Homo sapiens: one gene and its partners. The protein of the gene in region 1 interacts with the protein of each later gene in a pairwise test. Each region holds a gene or a part of one and is shown in the gene's direction. Other genes may lie near its edges.

Evidence for each region. Proteins that work in one complex are often made in the same cells at the same time.
Region 2: the proteins of TNKS (region 1) and OARD1 interact in binary tests that used the Homo sapiens proteins (3 or more experiments, as listed by UniProt).
Region 3: the proteins of TNKS (region 1) and SH3BP5 interact in a two-hybrid assay, tested with the Homo sapiens proteins (2 studies listed by BioGRID and IntAct).
Region 4: the proteins of TNKS (region 1) and ADPRS interact in binary tests that used the Homo sapiens proteins (3 or more experiments, as listed by UniProt).

The regions. Positions count from the first base shown.
Region 1 is NC_000008.11:9,751,412-9,757,317, forward strand, and holds part of TNKS (poly [ADP-ribose] polymerase tankyrase-1), read left to right. Parts: intron 1-197; coding exon 198-435; intron 436-1,132; coding exon 1,133-1,215; intron 1,216-5,906.
Region 2 is NC_000006.12:41,066,815-41,069,572, reverse strand, and holds part of OARD1 (ADP-ribose glycohydrolase OARD1), read left to right. Parts: intron 1-619; coding exon 620-732; intron 733-2,135; coding exon 2,136-2,238; 3' UTR 2,239-2,758. UniProt on the Homo sapiens protein: ADP-ribose glycohydrolase that hydrolyzes ADP-ribose and acts on different substrates, such as proteins ADP-ribosylated on glutamate and O-acetyl-ADP-D-ribose.
Region 3 is NC_000003.12:15,322,587-15,326,302, reverse strand, and holds part of SH3BP5 (SH3 domain-binding protein 5), read left to right. Parts: intron 1-3,716. UniProt on the Homo sapiens protein: Functions as a guanine nucleotide exchange factor (GEF) with specificity for RAB11A and RAB25. Inhibits the auto- and transphosphorylation activity of BTK. Plays a negative regulatory role in BTK-related cytoplasmic signaling in B-cells.
Region 4 is NC_000001.11:36,091,676-36,094,432, forward strand, and holds the end of ADPRS (ADP-ribosylhydrolase ARH3), read left to right. Parts: coding exon 1-150; intron 151-234; coding exon 235-419; intron 420-746; coding exon 747-847; intron 848-1,421; coding exon 1,422-1,711; 3' UTR 1,712-2,257; downstream 2,258-2,757. UniProt on the Homo sapiens protein: ADP-ribosylhydrolase that preferentially hydrolyzes the scissile alpha-O-linkage attached to the anomeric C1'' position of ADP-ribose and acts on different substrates, such as proteins ADP-ribosylated on serine and threonine, free poly(ADP-ribose) and O-acetyl-ADP-D-ribose.

The DNA.
Region 1 (5,906 bases):
AGTTTCTCCAATTCTGTCTACTGAAACTATTGAAACTCTTTGGAGCTGTGGATAGGAGAAGGAATGATCAAAAACCAGTAGGTGATAATGAGGCATTCATTAAGGAAAAAATCCACAAAGTATTTGGTTATCAGTGAAAAACTTACCATTTTAATATATAGTATTTTCATGGTTTTTGTTTTTAATCATTTTTTTAGGCTGACGATATCAGAGCTTTGCTGATAGATGCCATGCCCCCAGAGGCCTTACCTACCTGTTTTAAACCTCAGGCTACTGTAGTGAGTGCCTCTCTGATCTCACCAGCATCCACCCCCTCCTGCCTCTCGGCTGCCAGCAGCATAGACAACCTCACTGGCCCTTTAGCAGAGTTGGCCGTAGGAGGAGCCTCCAATGCAGGGGATGGCGCCGCGGGAACAGAAAGGAAGGAAGGAGAAGGTGAGTAGACCCCATGAATGCTTATTTATTTATACCTTTTGTTAGTGGAGCAGAATGACTTTTTTCTATTGATAACTATTGAATGCCTCAATTAGAGACGTCCTGTCTGTAAATTTTCATACACACAACATCTTACAAGAAATATTTCTTCATAGAAGGCTGCCACGTTTCTTGGCATTGTCGTTGTTCTTATTTCTGTATATTCTAGAGCATCTGTTTACAACCATAGCATCTTATTGAACCACTTATACTGAAATTGTGTCAGAACACAACTGAGAGGTCATTTCAGGAATGAAAACTAAAATGATAGCTGATACATTTAGATTTTTTAATTCATTAAAAGCTTTAGATGTTTCTATATAAGTAGCATTCTGTAGTATAAGAATTATACTATAATGTTAAAATTAGTATAATATTCTCTATATTTTTATAAATTACAATAAGTTATAATTCTATATTCTAACCATAATATTAGAATACAAATACTAATTTGATAAAGATAAAACACTCTGTTTTTACTTCCCAATCAACTTCAGAAATAAAGTGTCTAAATTAAATCTGTGTATTCTGTATTATTTTATGCCATGGAAAATCATCTGACAGCCAAGGTTGTCAGAGTCATGTCTAAATGGATACTGAAATTTTCTTTATATTTAGAGAATTCTTTCTGAGAATCTTTAATATGTTTCTGTTTTAGTTGCTGGTCTTGACATGAATATCAGCCAATTTCTAAAAAGCCTTGGCCTTGAACACCTTCGGGATATCTTTGAAACAGAACAGGTAAATACTCTTGTATATATTTGAGTCATTTAAATTAAATACTAAGATTAGGCTGGATGCAGTGGTTCACACCTTACTCCCAACACTTTGGAATGCTTCGGCAGGATTGCTTGAGCCCAGGAGTTTGAGACCAGCCTGGGCAACAAAGCGAGACCCCCATCTCTACAAAAAAAAAAGTTTTTAAGTTAGCTGAGCATGGTGACTTACTGGGCCCCTGTAGTGCTAGCTGCTGGGAAGCTGAAGCAGGAAGATCATGTGAGCCCAGGAGTTTGAAACTGCAGTGAGCTGTGATTGTGCCACTGCATTCTAGCTTTGGCGACAAAACAAAACCCTATCTCGAAAAAAAAAAAAAAAAGAAAGACTTATTAATTGCCACCCACCTCTTCCTCTTTTGCTTCTTACGAGCTATTCTTAAACCCACAACACATTTCTATAAGAAGCCAGAGGAGCCCAGTATTTTATACTTCTCCCCAAAATTGTCTAACAAATGAGTCTTTATTTTATCTTTATAAGCAGTCTAGCACTATGCATTTTATTACATGTCAAAACTTAGACCATGCAACTACCTCAAAAGAATGTTTTCATGATTGTCCTTGGTTGTTTGTTTCCGAAAAATGTCAGTCTTTATTCATCTCATTTCATTATTCATGTGACTAGGCTCCTGAAGCAGTTGCCCATTAATTTGGAAAGCACAGTAGTACTTAGACAACTGCACTTTTAAAAAATTGCCCCTTTATGAAGTTTCTGTTGTCCACTTGGAGTCTTAAATAATATTAAACCAAAAGTTGGCCATACATTCCAATAGACCCACCCTATTTTGGGATCCATCTTAAATGTCTGTGAAGGTCTAAGGATGGAGTCATCATTAGGGCATTTATGAATTAGGATTCTTCTGTTTGTTTTACTGTTTTCATACAGGATAAGGAGTTGTAATATTGTATGCTTTCATTATTATGATCAGCTTTAAATATTGAATGATGGTAACTCCTGAATTTAAATGGACTATTGATATACATGAAATTTAAGAATGGGAAAGGTGTTTAGAGAAAAATTATTCTCCCAGGTGTAGGGATCACCCTTGTATAATAACACCCATGTTAGTCCTCCAGCCAAGGAAGATATCTTGTTACAATTTGGGACAGGTGTAATAGAATGCTTGTAACTTAAAGTGTGCCAAAATCTGCCCGTAGGTATAATTCCTTTGTTTTCAGCTTACGCTTACGCTTACCCTGTTTTGCACAGAGATCTAATCTCCAGTCTACATATGTATTCAGTTTCAGAGGACTATACTCCCTACAGAGGCTGTAGGGGAGAATCTATTCCATGCCTCTTCCTGCTTCTGATGGTTGGCAGCTTCCTTGGCTTGTGGCCATGCTACTCCAGTCTCTGCATCCATCTTCACATTGCCTTCCTGTCCTCTCTATCTCTTCTAAGGACATTTGCATTGAATTTGAGGCCACCAGTATAATCCTGGGTGATCTCCTCATCTCTAGACCCTTAACATAATTTCGTCTGCAGACACTTTTCTTCCAAGGAAGGTGACATTCACAGGTTCTGGGGATTAGAACATAGACGTATCATTTTGAGGGCCACCATTCAGCCCACTACAACATAATATGGCCCTAGATATCTTTTTAAGACCTAGTCAACTTATCAGAGGTGTCACCCTTTCAATCACCCACCTCTACACATCTTCCCCTATTTTAGAATAAATCTGTTTTTTCAATTATTCTTTATATGACATAATTTTCCAGTATTTCACTGGCACCTTTGGCCCATTATGGTTCCCTTCTAGGCTTATAGTCAGTTTGGAGTTAACTTAAAAACCAGGTCTTTTTTCTTATTTATATCAATTATACTGTTAAGATTTTTTTTCTGCTTTCTCTCTTTTTTTTAGCTACATTTTTTCATTATAGTTCATCTTTAATGCTCTTAATGATAAGAACAGCCGAGTAGGGATAGCACTGGACTAAAAGAAGACCTTAATTCTAATTATTTTTACCCTCTTACTAGCTGTGTAAAATTGGGCTGAATGACATTTATCCTATCACTTCCTTTACCTGTAAAACCTAATGCTTATAAATGTTCAGAGAGTTAAAATCCTCAGTAATATTGTGCTGCTGTGTCAGCTTTTAATACAGTGATGCATCACAGGTGCCTTTGCGTCTAATGGTTAGGACTTTATAGACTGCTGTCTATAAAATCATTTTCTTTTCCAACCATTTATTCATCCTCTGGTTTGGAGCTTTCTTAGGACAATATCCTAAATAGTAAGACTGCTTCATCCTTATTCCCTAACTGAAGGTGTGAAAGCTGATTTAAAACCATTATACTCTGCTGTTCCCATATTACAGCTATAGCTGTTCTTCCCAAATCATTTCCACAATAATTGTAAAATTTCAAACACATCTTTGCTAAATAAACCAAAGACCTTAACTCAAACAAATAATTCCAATTTACTGATGAAAGTTTTCTAAAGAATGTTCATTTTTCTTCTTTTAGTCAGTTTGCATTATAATTTTATGTGTTCTTTTTAAATTTATATCGTATATTCGCATTGTCAGTAACTGACTTCCTGTGGCGTATTTATCACATTTTATTGATTTGAATAGTTTAATAGTTTAGTCTCCTAGTCACTCCTTCTGACAGCTTGTCCTGGTTTCATCAGTTTCATTGTTCTTTTTTTACTGCAGTTTCATTCTGAGTAAATGGTTCCATTGGTTTTCTTTTAGCCAGAATAATTTCTATAGCCTTTTATTGATCAATACATAGACGATTGCATTTAATGTATATTACCAAGCACAGTTCTTTCCCTCCAGACAGGTGATACTACCTTTCTTTGTATTGAACTGTGTCTGGCCCAATCATCAAGCAATCAAATTTATTTTTATTTTAATTGCAAATGTTATTTATCTAGCCTTCCATTATAAATAAATTTGATAACCTTTTCCATAACTTTAACCCTTAGCATTTTCTCCCATTAACATTCTATATCAGTAATATGTGATGATGGTCAATGTATTTGTATAGTCGGGGAGGAGTGAGGGTGCATGCATTGAACGCATTTAATTCATATCTGTTTGGCTTAAGCCAGGGGAGCCGTTGTTTTCTGATGCTCTTTGACATGCTTCTATGTCTCATTGCCTGTGTTCCTACTCATGGATGCCAGTGGGGTGTGGAATGTAGTTATTTTATTTCTGGTCCCAGAAGAAAACCTTCGGCACATCATAGCCTCACCTCCTATCTTCACAGTTACTCTCTTGGAAGTCTCTAAACTAAATTGTCCTGTTTCCCATAGATACTTTGCCAAGTTCTATGTTGAATAATATAGTATCCTTTCTAGTTAATGAAATATAGTACCCATGTGACTTTGGCCCTTCCTTTATAACATAGCTTTGTACCTATGAACATAGGTAGGAACACTTTTTATATGGGAAAGACAGATTTTATTTACACTGCAATTCCTAGAACATAAATGCTATCACTTGGAAGACTGCTTGTGGACATTTTTATGGTTAACCTATGTATTTTCATGGAAAGTGACCAGATAAATTTTGATTTCAAATTCTTGAAGACAAAAGCATGGCCTCCCATAATTCATTGTGAACTTGATTATAAAGTTAGTTCTTATTACTCCTGCTGTACCATACAACCTTTTAAGCCCAAGCAAGAGGACGTCTTTTTCATTAAAACTAGTTTTCTCTCCCCACCCAAAGTAAAATGACTCTCAGAAGCTAGAGGTAGCTCTTTTTGCAGTGACCTTTGCTTTATGTGCAAGATGACTTTAACTGACACGTGGATAATCTTTATTCTTAGTAATTTTATTTTAATGTATACTAGATAGAAATAACTAGCCCAACAAGCTTGTGATTTCCTCAGTATAATAACTAAGTCAAGGTTTTAAAAAAGGAGCAAGTTAATTTAAATATGATTTTCAGAAAAAAAAATGTCTAACAGCTGATAGGGGTATATATAAAATTCCTGAGTCTTGAAGCAACATGTCTAAAATCCAACTAACCTGCTTTCCATCCAGATATTTCTATTTCTTTTGTTGATGCAAAAGTCTCATAGTTACCCAGCTACAGAATTTTGGAATAATCTTACTTTCATTCCTTTTATTTTAACCATTTCTATTTACCAGGCCCTGTAAATACAGTTCTCCAGTTGCTTTCAGATTCATCCCTTCCATGCCATTTTATCTTCTTCTTATTCCCAGTTGCCTTCCCTTCCAAATCTGCCCTTCATAATGCCAACAGTCTCATCCTCCTAAAATACAACTTTGATCATATTACTCTGCTGAAAAGACTTCCCAGGGCCTTTGGTATACTTTTTTTGTTTTTGTTTGTTTTTTTTTGTTTGTTTGTTTTTGAGATGGAGTCTAGCTCTGTTGCCCAGGCTGGAGTGCAGTGGCGTGATCTCAGCTCACTGCAACCTCCGCCTCCCAGGTTCACACGATTCTCTTGCCTCAGCCTCCTGAGTAGCTGGGATTACAGGCATAGGCCACCATACCCGGCTAATTTTTGTATTTTTAGTAGAGATGGGGTTTCACCATGTTGGTCAGGCTGGTCTCAAACTCCTGACCCCGTGATCTGCCCGCCTTGGCCTCCCAAAGTGCTGAGATTACAGGCATGAGCCACCACACCTGGCCAGCCTCTGGTATACTTCTAAGCCTCTTAGTTTGATAGATAAGG
Region 2 (2,758 bases), on another chromosome or scaffold:
TGGTCCCTGAAAGGGTGTGGCTTCCTTAGTGGTGGTGGTGGGTAGCTTACAGCTAACCCACTACAAGCCTGATCTGGATGACAAACTGAGTGGGGAGATGTCCTAGCCCCTTTGAATTCTGTCCTTAAAGCTTATGTGGCTTCCAGTGGTTTTACTTTGGGACCCTACCAGTTTTTTCTGTTGTTTTATGTAGAGAGACAAAAAGCAAGCAAGCACAGTTTCTAAATAAGTAGAGGCTTTTAGCAGGGAATTTTCAGGTGGTATGCTTTCTTCCCTGTTAGAGATATGCAGCTTATCTCTTGGAAGTGGCACAGAGACTTCACCTACCTTGCTTAAAAATATTGACAATAGGCATCATCTGCTAATCTCATGGGTTTCCTAGGAAAAGGAAAGATTGCTACGTGGCAGAGTCTGGGTTTCTCAGCCTCTATTTAGTGGATTTTCTTGAAGGTCTCCCATAACAGTGTGGAAAGGGCAATATGACATTTGTCATCCTTGCTCTAGACTAATTCTATAAAAATGTGCTTACTCTTTTAATTATTGGGATGTTGGGGGAATGTGATGACTTTTCTTTGGCTATCATTTTGGGATGATGAAAGTTTGAATCCTTTGTGTTCAGATTACAAAGAAAAGGGCTTCGCACAAGCCAACTTATGAAAACTTACAGAAGAGTTTAGAGGCAATGAAGTCTCATTGTCTGAAGAATGGAGTCACTGACCTCTCCATGCCCAGGCAAGGAAATCCATGGTCCTAAATGGAGATTTAATTGATTGGTGGGGTTTACTATCTTACCCAAAGACAAACAACTTAAAAGCTTAACCCAAAATATAGATTTAAAGGTGGACAAAAGTCAAAATTTTGTAAAACCACCAGTGAACCAGTTGTCTGGCTTTAGACTAAGGCACAGCCATTTTCTAGCTTGAGTTGAATGAATCAGGACAATTACCTTGAAATATACATCTGCCTCAGCCTGCTTAGCAGAGAGCGACCATTGTCATTCAGCTACATTTGTTGAATTCTCAGCACCCTCTGCTTGAAGCTTGGCCTTTATTCCTAAAGCAATGTAAGCTAAAGAATCAAGACTGAGCAATGGTGGTTTTCCTCTTGGACCACTTCCCATCTCCCAAACCTATTACTTTGCGTCAAGAAAGTTGTAAATTATCATTCCCTTTTATACTGCACACTTGTTTTGGTCAGTATGGGTAATAGCCAGAGGATCTGTCCCTGATGTAACTTCTTAGACTTTAGCTATTGGGAATTTAGGGAATGACATTGAGGGTTCAGTAGTCCCTTTGCTTTCTTTTCAGGAAATGGGCCTCACCTCTTTTCTTCCTGTCACCCTGGTAGTTTTGAGTCAATGCTGAGCATACATGCAGTTTTATCTTGCGCCCCACATTACTTTGCATATGGCCTCAAATGTCCCTTATTTTACACTGGTCTTTGATATATTTATGGTGTACATACATATCAGAAACTTTTTTTTTAATCACAATTCCTTATGGACTTAATTATCACATTATGACATGAAATTACCAATTTTAGGTCTCTTTTTTCCCTAGGCGTGTTGAGGATCACTAGAGTAACATCTTGGAAGGTGCCAAGTAGTAGAGTTTTATGGACTGAGTTTATTCTTACCAGGGTGTTGCAAAGACCTTACTCCTGGATTGCAACTATCTTACCATTTCCCAGCATTCCCTCTTGACTTTCTTTTTTGCAGATCCTGTACCTCATTCCTCTTCTCCTTACTTTCGTTAACATTCTGTTACCATAAGTGCATTTTTAAAATACCAACCTTTCACCATCCATCCACAGCCAATTTTAGTCAGTAGTCATAGAGGGATAATGAGTCTCTAATGTCATGACAGTTACACATTTCTAAATGTAGCATGAAATAGTTGGAAAGTAGTATCTTATTAGGCAAACAGAAGTGATAGTTTTTGGATGTTAGAGCTGTCTAGGAATGGTCTTCGGTGACTCACAACAAGAATTGACTTCCAAACTCCTACCATGGTTGCCCATAAGGGTGTCAGACTAGATTATTTGTTTTTATGCTTTGAGTGGATATAGCTTAAAAGAGAGGAGCAGTTTCCTAGATACTTTCGTTACCATCAATGGAGATATTTTGTCTTTTTCAGGATTGGATGTGGTCTTGATCGTCTGCAATGGGAAAATGTATCTGCGATGATCGAGGAGGTATTTGAGGCAACAGACATCAAAATTACTGTGTACACACTCTGAACCAGTGAACATTTTGGATGTTTCCGTGTTCTCCTGTGTCATCTCTACTGGGCCATAGGACCGGGCAAACCTACCTTAAAATAGGCAGAGGAAAGTTTCATGAGAAGTAGTGTGTTTAACAAGACAGACTTTGGTTGCTGTATTCAAGTATTTGGATTATGACTGTGGAGGAGGGCTTGCTTAAGATATGTGGTTGTGTTTTTTTGTGGAAAAGTAAGGAGTTAGGTGGCTTGATAATAGGCAGGGAAACCAGATTGTCGGGACTATGACCTTTTTCTCCAGTATGCTACCTGATTTGTTTGGCTGGCCACTAGGTGGCAGCATTGGTTCTACTTCTCTGCTTTTTAAGAGAAATTTCAGGAAGGATGATCATTCCAGTTAGTTTGGCATTTTTTGTCGTTTGTGCACATAACTTGGTGTTATCCTTATGTCATCAGATTCCTCCTAGGGGAGAGTTTTTGTTTTAATTACAAAATTAAATTCTACATTGTTACCAAGAAATTTGTGGTGATAAAAATGG
Region 3 (3,716 bases), on another chromosome or scaffold:
GCCATTTAAATTCCAGATTGCAAAAGGGCCTCTGGATGCCAGCCATCTGCCGTGTCACTTGGATGTCTGTCTCTTCCTGCAACCTGGGTTTGCCTCTGACCTTATTTGAACAGTGCTGGGTCCCCTTTGCATGCTGATTTATATCAGCAAAAGCCAACCTTTTCAAGCTGTAAAAGGAGGAACCTTTTAACCAGAGAGCCCTTGGATATAAGCCTGATGTTTTAAGTTAGGAAAATAAGCATTTTCCCACAGATCCATTGATCAGTCAGCTTTATTTATTTATTGAGACAGGGTCTTGCTCTGTCACTCAGGCTGGAGTGCAGTGTCACAATCTCGGCTCACTGCAGCCTCAGCCTCCCGGGTTCAAGCGATTCTCCAGCTTCAGCCTCCCAAGTAGCCAGGACCAAAGGCTCACACCACCACGCTGGCTAATTTTTGTATTTTTAGGAAAGATGGGTTTTGCAATGTTGGCCAGGCCGGTTTCAAACTCTGGAGCTGAGAGCGATCTGCCTCCCTTGGCCTCACAAAATGCTGGGATTACAGGTGTGAGCCACTGCGCCTGACCAGCTTTTTAATTCACTAAGTATTTATTGAGCACCTACTACGTGATGGGGGCAATTTTCGGTGATGGGGACAGAGCAGTGAAGAGAATGGACAGAAGTCCCTGCTTTTCTGAGGCTTACATTGCAGAGGGGGTGGAAAACGCAATAAAAAGTTAAAATACACATGGTAGGTTATCTGATGTATACAAAGGAGGCAAAGAGCTGGAAGGGGACTCAGCTGGTGGGTGTTTGGAGGCAAGGGGAGGGAGAGGAATGCAGTATTGTCTGGAGAGAGTGAGCAAGCCTCAGGCCATGTGGGGGAAGAACATTCCAGCTGGAGGGCGCATCAGGGCTAAGCCTGGCTTAGCTGAGGGCCAGCAAGGGGGCCTTGTGCCAGGCATGGGCGAGTAATGGATGGAAGAGGAGGCAGTGAGTCAGAGATAAATGGGTCATTCAGGTGTGCGACAGCCCTGCTAGGTGAGATAGTAAAACTCAATATGCTGATGTAATTTTTAAATGCCTATTTTATAGGTCTGTCTCTTTTCAAATGTTTGTTAAAACAGAAGCCACACTGAGAATTTCTAAGTCTAATCAGAATAAAGATTTGTAATATTTTATGCCCATGTTTATGTGGTTTTAAGCACAATTTGTAATGTTTTCATCATTTCCCGTGCTTGCTCTGAAAGTGGGCTGTTCCAGGGCTGTGAAGGGGTCCGTCCTTTTCCTCATTGCTCAGGTCAGGTGGGAATAGTTTCTGCTTATACTTGCAGGGTGGTTTGAAAAATCTTTGTTTCTGAGTATCTGTGTTCCTCAAACATGCTTAAGCCAGCACTCATTATCTCTGCCTTTCCTCCCTCTGAAAACCAGCAAATGTTTTCTCTTAAAACTTTTTTTTTTTTTTTTTGGACCCAAGGAGCAATGGTACAAACAAAAACTCTGTTTTGAGCTTAGAAACTTGGAGGTGAGAGTAAACTGGAAGCTGCCCGGCCCCTCCCTCATGAATTATTAGCACAAATCAGGAGAAAAATTCCTCTATCAAAGGACAGTGATACGTCCCAGCACTTTCTCCATTAAAACGTGTGGGTGGAATGCACTAGGGACTAGGTCCTGTAAGACTCAGTTGTGCTTCGAAGAAACTGCTAGGGAATGTTTGAAGCATAGATAGACCGGGGGAGGGAGGAGTAACTGTTTCTTGAAGCTGCACCAGATTCCAGGCCTGGTGGCAGGCTGCCCGGTCTAAGCTGGCAGAGCCCCTACACCCCTGACCTTCTTGTACACAGGTGAGATCTGGTTGAAGTAAACATTGGCCTGGAGGCCTTCCTGCAGCAAATCCTGTGTGGGGCACTGGGGACCAGGGTGGTCAACAAATAATCAGGCACGTCCCTGCCTCATGGAGCTTGCCGTCTCCTGGATTCAAGCAAGCAATTGTAGTGGGGTGAGGGGGATTCTAGGAGAGTCACTCAGGGCCCTTTGAGAGGCCAAAGCTTTGTTGAAATAGGGGGCATCAGAGTTGAGGCCTGCAGACCCCAGATAGTCTGAAGAGATAACATCAGCCTTAAAGTGGAGGAGGAAGAGAGCTGACGGTACAGACATTGTCTGCAGGTTGAGGAAGGTTGGGGTGGGGAGAGGTGGAGTGTTAACAGGACCTTTGGTGATTGGTTGATTATAAAGAAAAAACACATGTGTGGTCTTTGCGTCTCTTCAGGGTAGCCTGAGCCAGGGCTGCTGCACTGCCCCCATAGCTCTGACTTGAAGTTTGGCCATCAGAATGGTGGTACTGAAGGCCTTGGGCTTCAGTGGTCCCCCCATACTGCTTATTTCCCTTTGGGGAAGTAGGTGAGTGGAGAAACATTTGAAACTTGTAGAGTGACTTAGCTATAGGACAGCCGGCAAAGCTTGGCCTCTGGAGCCAGACCGCCTGGCATTGAATCCCAGCTCCCTCTTCATAGCTGTGGGACCTCTGGCAGATTATGTAATTTCTGTGCCTCAATTTCTTCTTCTTTAAAATGGGATTGTGTCTCAGTTTTTGCTGTGAAATAACCAAAACCCAAAGCCGTGGGGAAGGGCAGGTGGAGGGAAGACAGCTGTCTTGACATCAGGTGATACAGGCTGAAATCAGAGGTCTGCTGACTTCTAGGGATACTTGGCACATGGAAGCCTCAGTCTCTTTGTCTTTGAATCTGGGGGCTGCAATTCTTGCCTACATCCCTGGGTAGCCTGGAGGATGGTAAGGGATGCTGTGTGAGAGAGTGCTTTGAGAGCTGCCCAGCCTGAGTGGACAAGAGGGCCCCCTGTGTGCTTGGCTGGCAGGGAGGGCTGAGACCCGCTGGGCGCTGCAAACAGAGAAGGTTCCAATGAGATGTCCACTGGGGCCAAACTGGCCATGGGGCCTGGCAGTGGCTCTGTTGTTCTCTTCCCCCAGGTCCTGCCATGACCTTTCTTTGTCAGATTGGCACTGGGAAGGGGGTCAGAGGGAGGGCTCATACAGGCCAGGATTACAGCGGGATGGACTTTGTAGTCACTGGATCAGCAGGGCGTTGCGCTGTGGCCTGCCTGCTGTAATGTGAAAATTAGTTTCCCTGAGTGAGCCCTGCTTTATTTATTTATTTATTTATTTATTTATTTATTTATTTGAGACAGGGTCTCAAAAACCGGAGTGCAATGATGTGATCTCTGCCACTGCAACCACTGCCTCCCAGGTTCAAGCGATTTTCGTGCCTTAGCCTCCCGAGTAGCTGGGATTACAGGCATGTGCCACCACACCCGGCTAATTTTTGTGTTTTTGGTAGAGACCGGGTTTTGCCATGTTGGTCAGGCTGGTCAACTCCTGACCTCAAATGATTCGCCTACTGCAGCCTCCCAAAGTGCTAGTATTACAGGCGTGAGCTACTGCGCCCGGCCTCCCGCTTTGTTTTTGTTTTTTCCTGAGACAGTGTTGGTCTCTGTTGCCCAGGGTAGGGTGCAGTGGCACAATCATAGCTCCCTGGAGCCTCGAACTCCTGGGCTCAAGTGATCCTCCCACCTCAGTCTCCCAAGTAGCTGGGACTACAGGAGTGCGCCACCACGCCTGGCTAATTTTTGTTTTTGTAGAGATGGGGTCTCTCCTTGTTGCCCAGGCTGGTCTCAAACTCCTGGGCTCAAGCAGTCCTCCTGCCTCGGCTTCCCAAAGTGTTG
Region 4 (2,757 bases), on another chromosome or scaffold:
GTCTTCAAGAAGCTCCTGAACCCCAAATGTCGCGATGTCTTTGAGCCTGCCCGGGCCCAGTTTAACGGGAAAGGCTCCTATGGCAATGGAGGTGCCATGCGGGTGGCTGGCATCTCCCTGGCCTATAGCAGTGTCCAGGATGTGCAGAAGGTATTCAGGGCGGGCTGGCTTCTGGGCTGTCCCCTTCCTCTTCTGCAGCAGGGCTTCTGTGACAGCAGGTCTCCTCCTCCCTAGTTTGCCCGGCTCTCGGCCCAGCTGACACACGCCTCCTCCCTGGGTTACAATGGCGCCATCCTGCAGGCCCTGGCTGTGCACCTGGCCTTGCAGGGCGAGTCTTCCAGCGAGCACTTTCTCAAGCAACTCCTGGGCCACATGGAGGATCTGGAGGGTGATGCCCAGTCCGTCTTGGATGCCAGGGAGTGAGTATGGGGCTGGAGGTGTGTGGTGTGGGTATGTGGGTGATCCAGGGGGCCTCTGGCATTGCCGCAAACTGTAAACCTTCCTCAATTGCAGACCCTAGGGAGGCATGGGCAGAAGCCCCTTTATCTTGTCTATGTTTCAAGGCTCTCAGGGTCCCAGAGAACGAAACGACCTGCTCACCCCAGCCCTCTCCCACCTCTTGTCGGCACCTGTGCCTGGCTGCCAGCCTGACCACATCCCTGCTCGTTCTCACATGCAGCCCTCTCCCCTGCCCGCGCCACCACCCTGCTAGCTCTGACCTCCCTGAAATCTCCCCTAAACCACAGGTTGGGCATGGAGGAGCGTCCATACTCCAGCCGCCTGAAGAAGATTGGAGAGCTTCTAGACCAGGCATCGGTGACCAGGGAGGAAGTGGTGTCTGAGCTAGGTGAGTGGGTCTGCCTGGGATTGTCTCTCCCTCTGTCGTCCTTCAGGGTCGGTCTTGGGCTCAGGGGAGCATGGAGTCATGCCTGCCGTCGCATTGTACCCTGGGCTGCTGTGACACGGAGTCAATGGCAGGGTTGAGCTCAGCGCTTCTTGCTCTGAAGCTACAGCACCCTCAGCCTTGTGGACCAGTGTCCCCAGAAATGGCAGCTGGCCACTAGTCGTAAAAATGTTGATAATGGATTTTATTTGTCTAGCATCTATACTGGGCGTTGTGCAGAATGCTTCACAGACACGATCTCGCTTCATCCTCACAACAGCCCTGTCAGAGAGTTGCTAACGTTACTCCCTGTCTGCTTAAGGAGTTGAATCTGGGAGCAGGAAGCTTAGCGGTCCCCTAGGTAACTCTCCCAGTCACGCAGCCAGTGTGTGGTGGAGCCAGGATTTGAGCCCAGGTGGTCTAACTGTAGAGCCTGAGATCTTAGTCACAGCCTGCTTGAAGCCGAGAGTGCTGACTTGTGTCAAATGGTAGGAGGCCTGGGGAAGCATGCAGCCCCTCTAACCTGGCTTCCCCACAGGGAATGGCATTGCTGCCTTTGAGTCGGTACCCACCGCCATCTACTGCTTCCTACGCTGCATGGAGCCAGACCCTGAGATCCCTTCTGCCTTCAATAGCCTCCAAAGGACTCTCATTTATTCCATCTCACTTGGTGGGGACACAGACACCATTGCCACCATGGCTGGGGCCATTGCTGGTGCCTACTATGGGATGGATCAGGTGCCAGAGAGCTGGCAGCAAAGCTGTGAAGGCTACGAGGAGACAGACATCCTGGCCCAAAGCCTGCACCGTGTCTTCCAGAAGAGTTGATGAGGGCTACAGCTGTTGGGGCTCTGCCAGGTCCCCTGGGACCAACTACAGCTCCAATCAGAAACCCTGCGCTTCCTTGAGTGTGGCTTCCCACTTTTCCTGCATTGTGGAGCTGACTGAGTACACCGGTGAGGCTGGGGTCTCTGCAGGGGAGGTCACTGGAACAGCGAGCAAGGGACTGGTGCCTCGCTGGTGCTGGGTCTCTGGTTTGCTGCAGAGCCGTAGGACACTCCTGGCTCCTCAGTAGGACAGACAGACGCAGGCGGGTTTATTTTGGAGGGGTACTTGTGGCATTTTCCTGTATTGTCTTGGACATGGGATGTGGGGAGGTGGAAATGATGAGCAGTAGCATCATTTCTCCCTGTTGGGTTTTAGCCAGTTTGCCAGCAAGCGCATCCTAGCAGGGTCCCCGAGCAGCAGGTTGTGTGGATGAAGGGACAGGCACTTGCATCCAGCTGATCTAGGTCACACCTGGCTCTTGGCTGCCATGTGGCTTATTAACAGCTTCCAGTGGAAGTCGCAATAAACAGTTTTTGGTAAATCTCACCACTGTTTCTTGTTTCTCCTGCCCTGAATGGATTCTCCCCTGCCAGCCTGATCTCTGAAGACTAGTGCCTTTGTCTGTGCTGCACTGTCATAGAAGCTGGGGCCCCAAGGCCATGAGCTGCTGTGTTGCCAGGCACTCCAGCTGGCTGCGTGTTCAGCCAGGAAGGGCACAGCAGGCATGGTCTGGTGGCTTTTCCTGTTAGAGATCACTCAAAGTGGCCCAGGCTGCTGGGCCGAGTGCTTTGCCAGAGGCAGCGGGTAGGAACAAGCCAGATTTTTCTGTTCTCAGAGCCTGACTTCCCCAAACAGGAGCTAGGCCCAGCTGGGCCAGGAACAGGAACCCTGTAGAAGGATCCAGAGGGCCCTGCTATCATCAGACTACCAACCTTTGGGTGGGGAGGGCACCATCACGGGGCCCCGGGTGGACTGAGTGCCGTGTGCCTCCTCCTGTATCTTGGGACCAATCAAAAGCCTTTCCCTGCAAGGAAGTTTTACACAGC